2 linked regions of the Homo sapiens genome follow. The protein of the gene in region 1 purifies or fractionates together with the protein of each later gene. This does not show direct contact. Each region holds a gene or a part of one and is shown on either strand. Other genes may lie near its edges.

Region 1 (7,057 bases):
AAAACAAAGTATGGCTTACTCATTGACATCACTGGAAGTCATTATGGGAAGAATTAAGGGCCTGTTTTGCAGGCCAGTCTCATTGATACTGTTGAAGTAAATATGTTAAATAATTAATAGAGGGTGGGCACAGTGGCTCATGCCTGTAATCCCAGCACCTTGGGAAGTCGAGGCAGGCAGATCACGAGGTCAGGAGTTTGAGACCAGCCTGACCAACATAGTAAAACCCCATCTCTACTAAAAATACAAAAATTAGCTGGGCATGGTGGCATGTGCCTGTAATCCCAGCTGCTCAGGAGGCTGAGACAGGAGAATGGCTTGAACCCAGGAGGCAGAGGTTGCAGTGAGCTGAGATTGTGCCACTGCACTCCAGCCTGGGTGACAAAGTGAGACTCCATCTCAAAAAAAAAAAAAAAAAAAAAAAAGAAATGGGTAAAGTACCTCTTTTGTAAATGAGATCAAGGAACTGAGACTGGAAATTTGACCCATTTTATTGGAAAACCCAGACATCTATATGATGATGTGATGTGGTCTCCGTGGGTGGGATCTGACTTGTGTTAGACTGGAAGCAGCACTTCAGTTAGTACAATACTTGAAGGTAGCTTAGTTACCTGTAGCTCCTACGCGTCAGTTCTAGTTTTCATGCTTCTCCCAGTAGTTAGAGTACTTAGCATCAATATCTTGTTTTTGCCAAATATAGTAGCACCTTCTTAATGCTAGCATCCATGAGGAAAAGCCCTGCAAGATACAATCTATGCCTGGGTTAGCCGGATGGCTTCCATTACTCTTTCTTTCTTTGTTCCCATGGAATTTTTATTCATACTCTCCCCTGTCCACTGCCAGAATTTGCTTTTCCACAGTGAAATCTGTTTACTTACATAGATCCCCTACTAGCGCATGGGATTTTTAAGGTAGGGACAATGCCTTATTCACCTCAGTGTCTACAATTTCTGGCCAAGTCCCTAACACATCAGTAGGTGCTCAGCAAATTTGCTGAATGAATGATCAGTCCCTAAGGGTCAGTTTGCTTAAACAATCAATAGCAGACAAAACCTGACTGGCCTTTGGGACTACCATGGTTTCCTATGCAAGACCCATTGGGCATTTTCACTGGGAGAAGACAATGATGACTGTTACTGCTCCTTACCAACTCAAAATATCCATGGGAGCTGAGGGATGGGTAGGAGGTCCTCCTAACTTCCTGAGTTTAGCTTCCCAACTGCAGTGGTCTTCTCAAAGCTGACTGCAGAGACAGGATTGACCCTGCACACAAGAGGTCTGTCTGAGATTCTAGAGACATAGCTTATGCTCTTCACACTCTTGTGTTTTGCACACACAGGTCCTTGAGTTTTAAGCATGGCTTTTTGACCTTCTCAGTATTGTCTTTTATCTGGAGTGGAAGTGGAACGTGACTTTACCCAGCCTCTACTGTGAGTTAGGGAGGGGTGTTGGCCCCACTGGCCCTGACGGCATCCACACAGCCTTTGCTGTCATAGAGTGACCCTTCTGGCTCCTTTGATTAGTGATTGGCTCTCCTCCATAGCAAGGGCTGGCAAAGGGTTCCTAACTCTGTTTAAGTGAAATCTGAAACAGGTTGCCAATGGTGCCTCTCTTCAAGACCCCAGAGCCAGCCTGGAAGGAACACCATGAAAATGTTGCAATAGTCAATGAGTAGAATGTGGACTTTTGTGTCAACCACACTAAGGGTCGTACTTTTTTCATTAAGAAAGTATTAACGTGTGTTTTTTGAGAAGGGAGGAAGAATGTGTGCTATTCCTTTATTCTTGCTATTAAATCATAAAGCTGGGTTATATAAGATCCTGGAAACTCAGCCTTTATGAACAGAATTAATAAAAGTTTGAAATGTCATTGATCTCTCAGTGTTTCACTTGATAAAGCAATAAAATGCTATTCACAGCTGCATGAGGCTACACCCTTCTTTTGAATGCAGATGCTATTACTTCTCCTTTGTTTTCTTTGAATTGCTTTGTCCACCCTAGAACTTTTTGAGTGACATTACTAAACCTTTTCTTATGCCCCGTGGTGTCTCCGGTAAGGGTTAGACTAAATTGGTGAAGTTATATCATTAAAAGTTTAGTATAGTACTTATTCTGATAAAGATATCTATCCATATATATCTATATTAGTATATATGTTGTATTATATTTTCTGGGGTAGATAGTCTTTATTTGGTCCTCTTTTCAGAAGATATGTCGTCTCAACATGTGTTTCAGAAAATAAAGTACCTGTAGTCAGTGCCGATAAGTGAAATTGATGACAGTTTTTGGAGGCCACAACTATGTGCACATTCAGAAACTATGAGCAGTCTAACCTGTTGGAGATTTTTAGACAAATTTCTTTAGGAGGAATATATTTTAAGACAATATCCTCTTTAGGAGAAATAAAGGGAAGAATTATCTGTTAACCTCCAAAGTAGTATGTTTTCCTATAATTCTGTTTTTGGTTACACATAGAGTTGAAGTCTTCCATTATTTATCAGCCAAATATTCAGTGAGAAACTACAAGCTGGGGTAGAAAATGAGACTTAGTTTCTGCCTTGACTGTATTCTAGTTGGGGTGGGAAGTGGAAAGACAATCACTAGATAATATTTCTAACACTGTGGCAAGTGTTAAAATAGAGGTATATACAAAAGTAAAATAAATAACGTTTAGCTCTGCTGGAGAGAGGTATTGGGGAAGGTTCAGCTTAGTATTTGAAGATACCAGATGCAAGTTTACTGGAGTATTATCCTTGCAGGCTTGATATGAAGTTTGAAATTTCTCCCCAAAGAGATTTAGTTAACAGGCAAATATCCCATGGGAGGTATATGTCAATAGGTTATACAACATTACTGTCAGTCTTTTACAACTTAGCGTGAATTAATTTTCCTTCAGGAAATCAGTCATCTCTGGAGCAGAGACAGGAGGCCAGGTGTTAATAGGAGCAAAGAGAAGAAAAGGCCTGGGCAGTGCTTGGACATAAAAGACCTGAACGATCAGACCCTTCCATGGGCTCCCTTTAAGAAGAGCAGGGAGAGACCAAGGGCTAAAGTTGGGAGACTGAGAAAATGCAGCCCACCGGGGCATTACTTATTTCTCCAGCTCTGATCCGCTGTTGTACTAGGGGTCTAATCCGGCCTGTGTCTGCCTCCTTCTTGAATAGCCCAGAGCATTCATCTAAACAGCCTTCCTACAGCAGCTCCCCACTTTAGGTGTGGCCAGACAGGAGTTCTAGACCAGGTTGTCTCCTGGGACATTGACACCGCAGCCAAGTTTATTGGTGCTGAGGCAGACACAGTTGGTGTGGTTGGTTCAGGGGCTAGCATTGGAATAGCGTTTGGCAGCTTGATCATTGGTTATTCCAGGAACCCATCTCTCAAGCAGCAGCTCTTCTCCTATGCGATTCTGGGCTTTGCCCTGTCTGAGGCCATGGGGCTCTTCTGTTTGATGGTCGCCTTCCTTATCCTCTTCGCCATGTGAAGCTCTGTGGGGGTCACCTGCCTGTCCCTGCTGCTGCGGCTGCACACCATTCTTGGTGCTGGGCTGTGCTAAGCTTTACCATTGAACACAACGTTTCTGAAAAAAAAAAAAAAAGAGCCAAGCATACAGTGGAGCTCAAAGGGACTTAGAGATAATTTTAAAAAGACTTAGAGATAATTTTAAAGAACATTTTCCTTTTTAAAAATTATGCAATACTCCAAGCATTCAGAAAATGATAGAGAATAATAAAACGAACACCCATATACCGATCAATCATCTTTTTGAACTTAATATTTTGCCTTAATTATTTCAGATATTTTAAAGAAAAAATATAACAACAGTTGCATTGCTTTGTATGTATCCCTTCACTGCTCACTCCACTGTCCTGTTCCTCTTTCTTCCTCCCCAGTGGTAACCATTATTCTGAATTTACAATTTCTTCATTCTACTGACAAGAATACTGAGGCCTGGAGAGATTGAGTGATTTGCTCAAGGCCACAGAATCTGTTTATGTCACATTTGGGACTAAAAACCAAGGTTCTTATCTTCAATTTAGACTTTGTTAATTAGCTCAGATCTGAGTAGGTGGCAGTACAGTGGGGAGTGGGCAATTCAAACCAAAGACAAACAGAGAGGTCACAACAAATATTGTTTTGTTCTGCTATGTGCTAAGTTTGTTGTTGTTATTGTTCTGTTTTGTTTTGAGATGGAGTCTCGCTCTGTTGCCCAGGCTGGAGTGAGTGCAGTGGTATGATCTTGGCTCACACCAACTTCTGGCTCCCAGGCTCAAGCAATTCTCCTCCCTCAGTTTCCCAAGAAGCTGAGATTACAGGCGTGTGCCACCATGCCTGGCTGACTTTTGTATTTTTTAGTAGAGACAAGGTTTCACCATGTTGGCCAGGCTGGTCTTGAACTCCTGACCTCAAGTGGTCTCCCAAGGTGCAGGATTACAGGCATGAGGCACCGTGCCCAGCCAGTTTTTGAAATTAGGCATTTTATTAGGAAAAGCCGTATAAATGGTTATGTGGGTTTGCAGTAGAATTTACTTTCAAGTCAGCTCCACCAGGAATAGTTTAAAGATCTCATAGGCATCTGTAAAGAATAACAAACGTTGCCTATATTTACAGCCATACAGTCTTATTTTTAAGGTTTGATCTATGCAAATACAGTATTATATATACTTCATGTAATGTGTAACATGTAGATTATAAAGTATATGAATAACTTTTCAAAGGAACACAAACTCTTCACAGGACAGTCTCTGGTTTCAGTGCAATACAGTTTGGATCTGAGTGGATGATGAATTATAAGCCATAATAATCTGACACTGTGTCAAGAGCAAATTTGTGTATATATATATATGTACATATATATTTATGTGTTTGCCTATATATGTGTATATATGTGCATGTGTGTATATATGTATGGGGTATATATATATAGTATGTATATATAAGTGTGTATATATAGGTGTGTGTATATGTATATGTATGTATATGTATGTATGCATATATATGTATATGTGTATATATAGGTGTATGTATATATGTATGTGTATCTGTATATATATAGGTGTAGGTATATATGTATGTGTGTCTGTATATATACATGTGGGTATATATGTGTGTGTGTGTGCGCGCGTGTGTGTATATATATATATATATATATTTATGCATGTGTAAATTGAAAAGTAAGCAGTCCAAATTTTCCCTTTTACAGACAGACACCAAACCAGTGCAGATGATGAACATGGAGGCCACGTTCTGTATGGGAAACATTGACAGTATCAATTGTAAGATCATAGAGCTTCCTTTTCAAAATAAGCATCTCAGCATGTTCATCCTACTACCCAAGGATGTGGAGGATGAGTCCACAGGCTTGGAGAAGGTAAGGAGAAGGCAGGTGCTCTCCACAAAGGCACCCCCTGCCTTGGCAAAGAGTTGTGCCAACAGGTCTGTGTGGGCCGTGAGAGCTGGGCCGGTAGCCCTCCCTTATTGCCACTGGCTCAGTCACCTCCAAGGACCCATGGTTCTTTCTGGGGCCTTTCCTCCTTAATATTAACAACAGCCAAAATTTATTTGGCACTTACAGTGTTCTAGGGACTGTGCTAAGTTGCCTACGTGCATTATCTCATTTAATTCTTACAGCAGGCTGATGAGTTAGAGACTGTTACCACACTCTTGTTTACCAGTGAGGGAGCTGAGGCACAGAGGGGTGGGTAACTGGTTACATAATTAGTCAAGGGTGTGTGCAGGATCAGGATTTGGGCCCAGGTAGTTGGAGCCAGGTTCTTAACTGAAGGCTAGAGTGTCTCCCTCACCTCCTAGGCAGTTAAGGCACTACGTTGCTACGCACTGCCAGGTCCACTATCATGTGACCTGATGTCAAGCATCCTCTCTCTTGCTCTTTCTTTTTTTTTAAAATTAGTAGATGTTATTTTTAGAGTAGATCTATGCCTACAGAAAAATAAGCAGAAAGTACAAGGAGTTCCCATATACTCCCCTTCCCGTCCCAGGCCTACAGTTTCACCTGTTATTAGCATCTTGCATTAGTTTGGTATGTTTGTTACAATTGATGAGCCAATACTGACATATTACTATTATTATTATTATTATTATTATTATTGTTTTAGAGACAGGGTCTTGCTCCATTGCCCAGGCTGGAGTGCAGTGGCATGATGGTAGCTCACTCTAACCTCAAACTCCTGGGCAGGCTGGAGTGCAGTGGCATGATGGTAGCTCACTCTAACCTCAAACTCCTGGGCTCAAGTGATCCTCCTGCCTCAGCCTCCCAAGTAGCTGGGACTAAAGGCACACAGCACTATGCCTGGCTTTTTTTTTTTTTGTAAAGGTGGGATCTCACTGTGTTGTCCAGGCTGGTCTTGAAATCCTGGCCTCAAGCAATCCTCAGCCTCAGCCTCCTGAAGTGCTAGGATTATAGGCATGAGCCACCACACCTGGCCTTCACAATTTACGTTACGGTTCACTCTTTGTGTTGTACATTTATGAGATTTTAATACGTACACATATATGCTTCAAAATTTTGAATTATGCAGATACTATTTTATAGTACACATTATATATAAGTATTTTATTTTATATGATAAGGGTTATTATATTATTTTATTTATATAGATTTTTAAGGCACAAAGTTTAAATAAGAGTAGCAGTTTTCTCTGCAGGTGAATGGAGTTTTAGCTTCCTCTCTGCTCCCTCACCTCTGCTTAGCTGGCTGAGGCCTGTTCTCCCTTTAGTCCCTCCCTGGCTTCCATTCTAGCTCCACCCCGCCTGGCCTCAACCCTTGGCCAGGAAGGAAGAAGGGGCTCTTTGAAGGCCTGGATCACTTGCTATATATCCACATGGGCCTCAGTGATTTGCTGACTTTCCAGGGGACCATCCAGTCTCCAGCTTGCTCCTTTGGTTGCCATTATGTTTTAGCCACCACTTTATTAACTGAATTATAATTCCTGTCCTTCTTCTTCTTTGGTGCATTACTCTCTCTGTTTTTTTTCTTTCCATTTTATGCTTTGATCTTTCAGCCATTATCCAGCTGTCTTGGATTTTACCTTTCGTTCTTA
Region 2 (7,235 bases), on another chromosome or scaffold:
AGAGCTTTTCTTTTTTAAAGTGTTGCCCATATGTCACTCAGAACAGGAGGAGTAGGATGTGCTTGAATTTGAGTGCAAAGATTTAAGACAACATTGGGAGAGATGGAGCAGGAGTAATTGGGAAAGTGCATGAAATTACTTCAAAACAGCAACTTCAGAATGCTGGGTGCTTAAATATCATTCAAGCACCAAAGGGAAAAAATTCAAAGGACAGAGCCCTCTGCATCTTTATAATGGCAAGTAGAAATATATTCACAGGAATTTTGATCAAAAGAGCCAAACTTATCCTAGAGTAAAAATACATCTTGGTTACAACACCTACCTAAATGTTTTATTAGGGTTCTATCACCCTTTTAAATTAATCTTGTACCTTTATTAAACATTTTCTACATTTTAACATTAATAGTGCAGTTTTTCAAAGGCGCCCTACACATTTATTGGATTATTCTGTGCTGGATGCTAGATAAAGTTAAAAAAAAAAAAAAAAAGACGTACACTAATTTAAAACAAAGAAAACTTGCTTCAGCAAAACACTACAATAGCAATAGACTTTGCACCTAGCACAATTCCTTGTAAATAGGGGGCACGTGATCTCTGCTGAATAAATGAGTCCATTTCTCCTTACTCCGAAAAATAACCCTGGCAAGCATGTAAAATATCCTACCAGTCTGAAAAATATTCTCCAGTCCTATTCAGCTACCAATCCATTCTCAGAACCCATCAAGAGCAATTTTCATGAAAGCCTCACTCACACGCACAAAGAGGCAGCATTTAATTCCCATTAGGCTCACTGCCTGATCTACGGAGATATAAGCATTTGCACATTTGCATAAATTCAGGAGACATCCTTCATTTGATATAAGGTAAATCTTAAAGCTTCGCTTCATTTCCAAATAAGTTTTATTTTTCAAATCAAAAATATTTTTAAAGTTTTATTTTTCAAATCATAATCCTAATCATAGTACATTATATCTTATTAGGGATGCTTTTAAGAAAAAAAAATATAGCTGTCAAAATTAAAATCTTGTTTTTTCATTTCTAGACATCTGGGACATTTCACTTATATATTTATTATTATTTCACATTAGTTCTCAAAGTTAAAAAAAAAAGCTGGCCTATTTCCTTTAAGAAATTTAATTTTAGGGTCTGTCAACATTTTGAATGCATTACTGTTATTTTTAAAATACACACTTGCATACTGGAATAAAACTTAGCATAAGCTTTCCATATAACCATTTCCTGGGCACTTACTAACTTACTATATGCCAGGCTCTATGCTTAACACATTACTCCATTATCTCATTTGTTTAACAAATATCCTCTCATAATTTTTGCAGCACTGAACATAACAAGAAGACATTGCACTATAAAACTGGTATTTGTACTGGATACCAGAACTAAATTGACAGTAACGCCTAACACAAGTTTATTGTTATTAAATTCAAGTTGTGTTACTGTATTAACACAGAATCTGATCAGCAATGTTGAGATGTAGAGAATACCATCTGTGGTAGCATCAACAGAGAAAGCTATTATTAAGTGACTACTTAAGTTACATTCCCTTCTATAGGTAACAGATGAACATAATCTTATCTACCCAGAAATTTAATTCCAATCACTACATGCCATTTTGAAGAACATAAACGTAACCTACATAAAATGACTATATAAAGAACCCTTGCTTCCTTCTGAAAATGCTTCAAAATTCTAGATTAAATTCTCCCCCAAAGTATCATGCTCAGCATGTCATAAAGAAAGGTGCCTTTATTGTCAACTCTTGAAAATAAATGCTGCCCTACTTTTTTTTACTCTTGAATTTCAGTCTCAACAGATGGGCAATTCCAGTTTAAAAAAAAAGAAGAAGAAAAGAAAAACACACACACAATAATTAATGAAGTTCTTCAACAGTTCCCTAAAACCAACATCCTCCCAATAGCAAATTGTATTTCCAAGTTGTTCCAAGAAAGGGACACAGGAAAGGGAAGGGAAGAGTCTATACAAAGGAAAACAAAAATGAGTGACTTGAAAGAAAGGACATCAGAAAAATGGGTGGCCTCAACAGGAACCTATAGTGTCTGACTCTGCTGCTGTCTGTCGAATTTAATTCTACCACCTAAGAGTTTTGAGACGAGAACCACAATACTATTTCGGTGGTAGGAAAAACTATGCGTTGCCCCTGAATGGAGCTGCAACAGTAAAGGATGCCACCCTGCCAGGTAAGGACAGAATGAGGAGGAACTGTCAAACGGTTATGAAAGTCCCTTGCAAAACACACAAGCGGCTCTAACTGCCTTGCACCAGACAGACCCTCAAGTACAGGATCACGGGGCCTCCCCGCGATGTGACAGGGAAATAACGGGCGGCCTCGCGGTCCCCAGGCCTGGCTGCTATCCTCAGGGGTCGGCCTCCCCTCTCAGGTCTCAAGTCAAAGGTCACATCCTCTGAGATGCCCTCCCGGATCACCTAACCTAAAGAGCCTCGCCCCCATTCCTCTAGCCCGCAACTGCCTGTCCCGTTTCTAAGAAAGCATTTCCGTATCCGCAAAACATCGCAGCTGCGTGTGTTGTTTCCCTTCTACAGAGTGAGCTCTGCGGGGCAGGGGCCTCGCCTGCGCTGTTCACCCGGAGCCCCGCCTGACAGAACCGGCTTCCCGGTGAGGCCCGAGGCGGCGTTTGCGAGCTCGGCCGCGACACCACGCGCGTCCAGAACGTGGAGCTCAGATGGGGGCCGGCCTGGCCAGTCCAGGCATCCCCGGGGGCGCCTGCGGGGCCTGAACGAGACAAGGAAGGAGCGGACGCCCGCGCAGGCGGAAGCCACGCGGCGGAGCGCGGTCCCGCGGGGCGACCGAGGCTGACGGCGACTCCCGCACCCCGGTGGACCCACAGGCCGCCCGGAAGGCCCAGTGCCGGCCCCAGCCCCGGCCGCCCGCCTCCGCGCCCCCGGCTCGGCGCGCGAGTCCTCGAGCCGTGTCGCCTGCGGCCTCCCTACCCTAAGCCGCAGACCCGTCGCGTTCTGCCCAGTACGAACTTCCCGCCGCTTTCGCCGACTCGTAACTCGGCAGCGGCGCCGGCCCCTTCGCACCCTGCAGTATGGAGCCTTCCCATTGGCTCGGAGGCGACGAGGAGGGGCGGGACGAGTGGTAACGCGAGGCGCGGGGCGGAGGCTACGCTAGCCCCGCGCCTCCCCGGGAATGCCGGGAGCTGTGGTCCAGCGCTCCCAAGGCATCCTGGGAGTTGGAGTCTCTTAGCGGCAAAGGGAGATCCCCGTCCTTCTGCTCCCTGGTCTTCTAGGAAATGTGGTTTACAGCCTTGTTCGTAGTAGCTTGATTTATTAAGTGTATTGGCAGAGAGTTGGGTGTAAAATAAGTTTCCTGTTTCTGTTAGGATTAAATGAAATAATCTATAGGCAGTACTTTAAACTTAGTTGGTGCTCAATAAATAGCAGATAGTGTTAGTATTATTCTGCCCACTCATTGATATGTGTCTAAATCCTACCTGTTTTTCGAAGCCTATTTCAAAGCATATCTCAATGTCTACCTAATCATCTATAGTGTTTCATCTGTAATCAACGTATGCCACAGTTTGCATTGTGTTTATTATTTATTTTTATTTATTTATTTTTTTGAGACGGAGTCTCACTCTGTCGCCCAGGCTGGAGTACAGTGGCACAGTCTCGGCTCACTGCAAGCTCCGTCTCCCGGGTTCACGCCATTCTCCTGCCTCAGCCTCCCGAGTAGCTGGGACTACAGGCGCTCGCCATCACGCCCAGCTAATTTTTTTCTGTTTTTAGTAGAGACGGGGTTTCACCGTGTTAGCCAGGATGGTCTCGATCTCCTGACCTTGTGATCCGCCCGCCTTGGCCTCGCCAAGTGCTGGGATTACAGGCGTGAGCCACCGCGCCCGGCCGCATTGTGTTTATTATAATCAGCTAAGTCTCCATCACCCATGAGGCTGAGAGCTTATTGGGCACTGGGTCATTGTTCTAGGTCAAAATCACTGAAGTCACAGGCAGAGGGAGATTAACAATGAAGCCAATGAAGCGTAAGCTTCAGGACCTCACTTGCGCAGGTCCCTCAATGAGTTTACATAGCTTTGGGGGTTTATTTGTCGATTTTACTTTTCTTTTTCTTTTTTTTAAAGATATAGTCTCACTTTGTCACCCAGGCTGCAATGCATTGGCGCGATCTCGGTTCACTGCAGCCACGACCTCCTGGGCTCAAGCAATCCTCCCACCTCAACCCTCCGAGTAGCTGGGATTACACGCACAGGCCACCACTTCTGGCTAATTTTTGTATTTTTTGTAGAGACAGGGTTTGACCATGTTGCCCAGGCTGGTCTTGAACTCCTGAGCTCAAACAATCCACCCCGCCTCAGCCTCCCAAAGTGCTAGAATTACAGGCATGAGCCACCACACCCAGCTGATTTTTCTTAAAGTAGATCCCCCAAAATTATGTGAGCTTCAGTCCCTACAAAACCTGGAATCACTCTGTCCATTAGACAGGGCAATATTGTGCCTGATGTCTTACATTTTCCCCTCCAGATACCCTCATCTGCTCCAAATACTTCTCCTGCCTGCCCTCTGCCCCAGGAGGCTGACCTCTACAAATTACTTCGCGCTCCCTGTGCCCCCTGGCTTTGGGGCGTGCCCAGTGGAGAACCCCACAGAAGATTGGAGGAAAAAGAAAGGTTGGTTAGAGTAGGTTAAGCCCCTGGATCCTGACTGGCAAGGTCACCTCCAGTTGGCAGGTCCCTCAGCTGAAGGTCACTGCTCCCTGGCCCTCCCTCCAGTTTGCGGTAGTAGCCCTTCCCTTTGTGCCTCAGGTCTGGAAGTGATGACATCACGGCTGCTGCTGACCCACAAGTTACTGCATCCTCCCTCGTGGTTCCTACCCCCAACACCGTTGTAAATAGTCTCATTGCAAATAACCTTCCTCAAATTACCCTATTTGGAATTATGTCATCTGCTTCCTGTTGAGACCCTAACAGAGCATGGGCAAGGTGAGCACTCGATAAAATCTGTCAGCAAAAAAGTCTCAAGATTCACACATCTCATGGGTGTGGAATCCCCCAGCAAGACTCTGTGGCCAGAATCCACTGAGAGAAAGACACACACACCCACACCCACACCCACACAAATACACACATATGTTAAGAAAACTTGGAACAGGACTTATCTGTCATAGTGTGACCATGTTCCCCTAACCTCACAATAGACACGTGAAGAAACATCCCTGTTTCCACACTGGGTTGACAATTGACTGACTTTAAAGCACAATTAAATCAGCAACAGTGTAAGGTAAGAATGGAATGTATTTATTCTGGAGCTCTTGGCCCTGGCACCCTTGATCTGATGGCTCACTGTTAAACACTCCTTACGTGCAGCCCTGTTCCAAGGCAGTTGCCGGCACCTACAACATCATCCACACATGCTGAGATGTCTTCCCAGTGCAGAGCATGGCAGGTCACCAGTCCAAGCTGCTGTCACAGAGACAACATGTCTGAAATGCTATAGATGGGGATACAACTCTCAAAGCTAGCAGACCCTTGGCACGTTTTTATGAGTTGATAGCTTGGTGTCAAGATCAGGGTCATACATAAGATTGACCAGCGAGGACTTGCTGTTGGTGGGCTTTAGAAATTAAGAATTGATGGCTCACGCCTGTAATCCCAGCACTTTGGGAGGCCGAGGCTGGCGGATCACGAGGTTAGGAGTTTGAGACCAGCTTGGCCAACATGGTGAAACCCTGTCTCTACTAAAGATACAAAAAATTAGCTGGGTGTGGTGGCAGGCACCTGTAATCCCAGCTACTCAGGAGGCTGAGGTGGGAGAGTCGCTCGAACCCGGCAGGCGGAGGTTGCAGTGAGCCGAGATCGCGCCACTGCACTCCAGCCTGGCGACAGAGTGAGACTCCGTCTCAAACAAAAAAAAAAAAAGAAGAAGAAGAAGAAGAAGAAGAAGAAATTAAGAATTGTACTAGGCAGGAAAGGTTCATAAAAGTAATCCTGCCATATATTCAAAATATCTATACGGTCCAAACAAATGTTTACAGAGCACTTACTGTGAGCCAGGGATTGAGCCAAATTCCAGGGACCCTGGTTTAATGCTTAAGGAGGCCCTACTATTTGTCAGGCACTGTGATTTTTCACACATATTGTTTCCCCAATTCTTAGAGGGGAAAAAAATCTCAAAGAATTTGGACAATGATTCTTGGTCCCCTGAATCTACTTCCAAATGTTCTTTTTACTGCCCCTTTATGCCCAGCCTCAATACATGAGGACTGTCCTTACAAAGAAATAATTTTAGCACAGTGGTGGAGACTTGTACAGAATGCTATCATAGCCTAGTACTGAGATTCCTGGTTAAGGGGTCATCATAGATGAAGCAGGGTGACCTAGTGAATAAAAATCTTCTAGCTTCCCAGTAAAGGCAAACCAACTAAAAATTTATACATGGGATCTGTATTGATTTGCTGCATAGTGAGACCCCAGAGTTCCTTTTTTTTTTTCATCTCTGGGAGCCCTAACACAAAGGTATAGAAAAATAAAAATAATCCAGGCACTTTGGGAAAGTGTGAGGAGGTTGGTGTTGGCTCCACCGTGGCAGAAACCCAATCTATAAACTTCAAACAAACGCCATAGTCATTAGGAAGCAACATCGTCCTGGCGGGCTGCCCAGGAGGCACTGATTCAACCCGTGAGTCAGTTTATGCATCCTTGTCCTTGTTGTTTTCATCTGTAGAATGGGAGCAATCATTCTGGGCCAACCGGCTCTCTGCCACCCCAGGCTGATGGGAGGCAGATGAGGTAATGTTTGAGAAGGGCTTTGATCTATCCAGAACAAAGTCACTAGGGTGTCCTTACTCAGTGTAAGTGGCCTAAGAAAAGCCCAAGACAATATTACTTCCTGGGAGAAAGGAAAGGAGAGAGGAGTGAGGGGCAGAATGTGATCAGGGTCTTCTGAGTACCCTGACCCTGGTTTGTACTCCCCCACCTGCTCTTGATGCTTTATCTCATCCCAAGTGCCCAGAACCCTTATTTCCCTTTTAGCAAGGACTTTTGAGGATCTACCATGTGTCAGGCAGAGTGTCTGATATGGATTGGCTGCATCCCCACCCAAATCTCATCTTGAATTATAGTTCCCATAATCCCCACGTGTTATGGGTAGGAGTGAGTTCTCCTGAGATCTGATGGTTTTATAAGGGGCTTTCCCCCACCTCACTCATACTTCTCCTTGAT

Evidence for each region. Proteins that work in one complex are often made in the same cells at the same time.
Region 2: the proteins of SERPINB5 (region 1) and VRK1 purify together in Homo sapiens (affinity purification with mass spectrometry; 3 studies listed by BioGRID and IntAct, with this or other methods). This does not show direct contact.

What each region holds. Positions count from the first base shown.
Region 1 is NC_000018.10:63,493,921-63,500,977, forward strand, and holds part of SERPINB5 (serpin B5), read left to right. Parts: intron 1-3,021; exon of another isoform or gene 3,022-3,583; intron 3,584-5,199; coding exon 5,200-5,367; intron 5,368-7,057. UniProt on the Homo sapiens protein: Tumor suppressor. It blocks the growth, invasion, and metastatic properties of mammary tumors.
Region 2 is NC_000014.9:96,793,201-96,800,435, reverse strand, and holds the start of VRK1 (serine/threonine-protein kinase VRK1), read right to left. Parts: upstream 3,055-7,235; 5' UTR 2,989-3,054; intron 1-2,988. UniProt on the Homo sapiens protein: Serine/threonine kinase involved in the regulation of key cellular processes including the cell cycle, nuclear condensation, transcription regulation, and DNA damage response.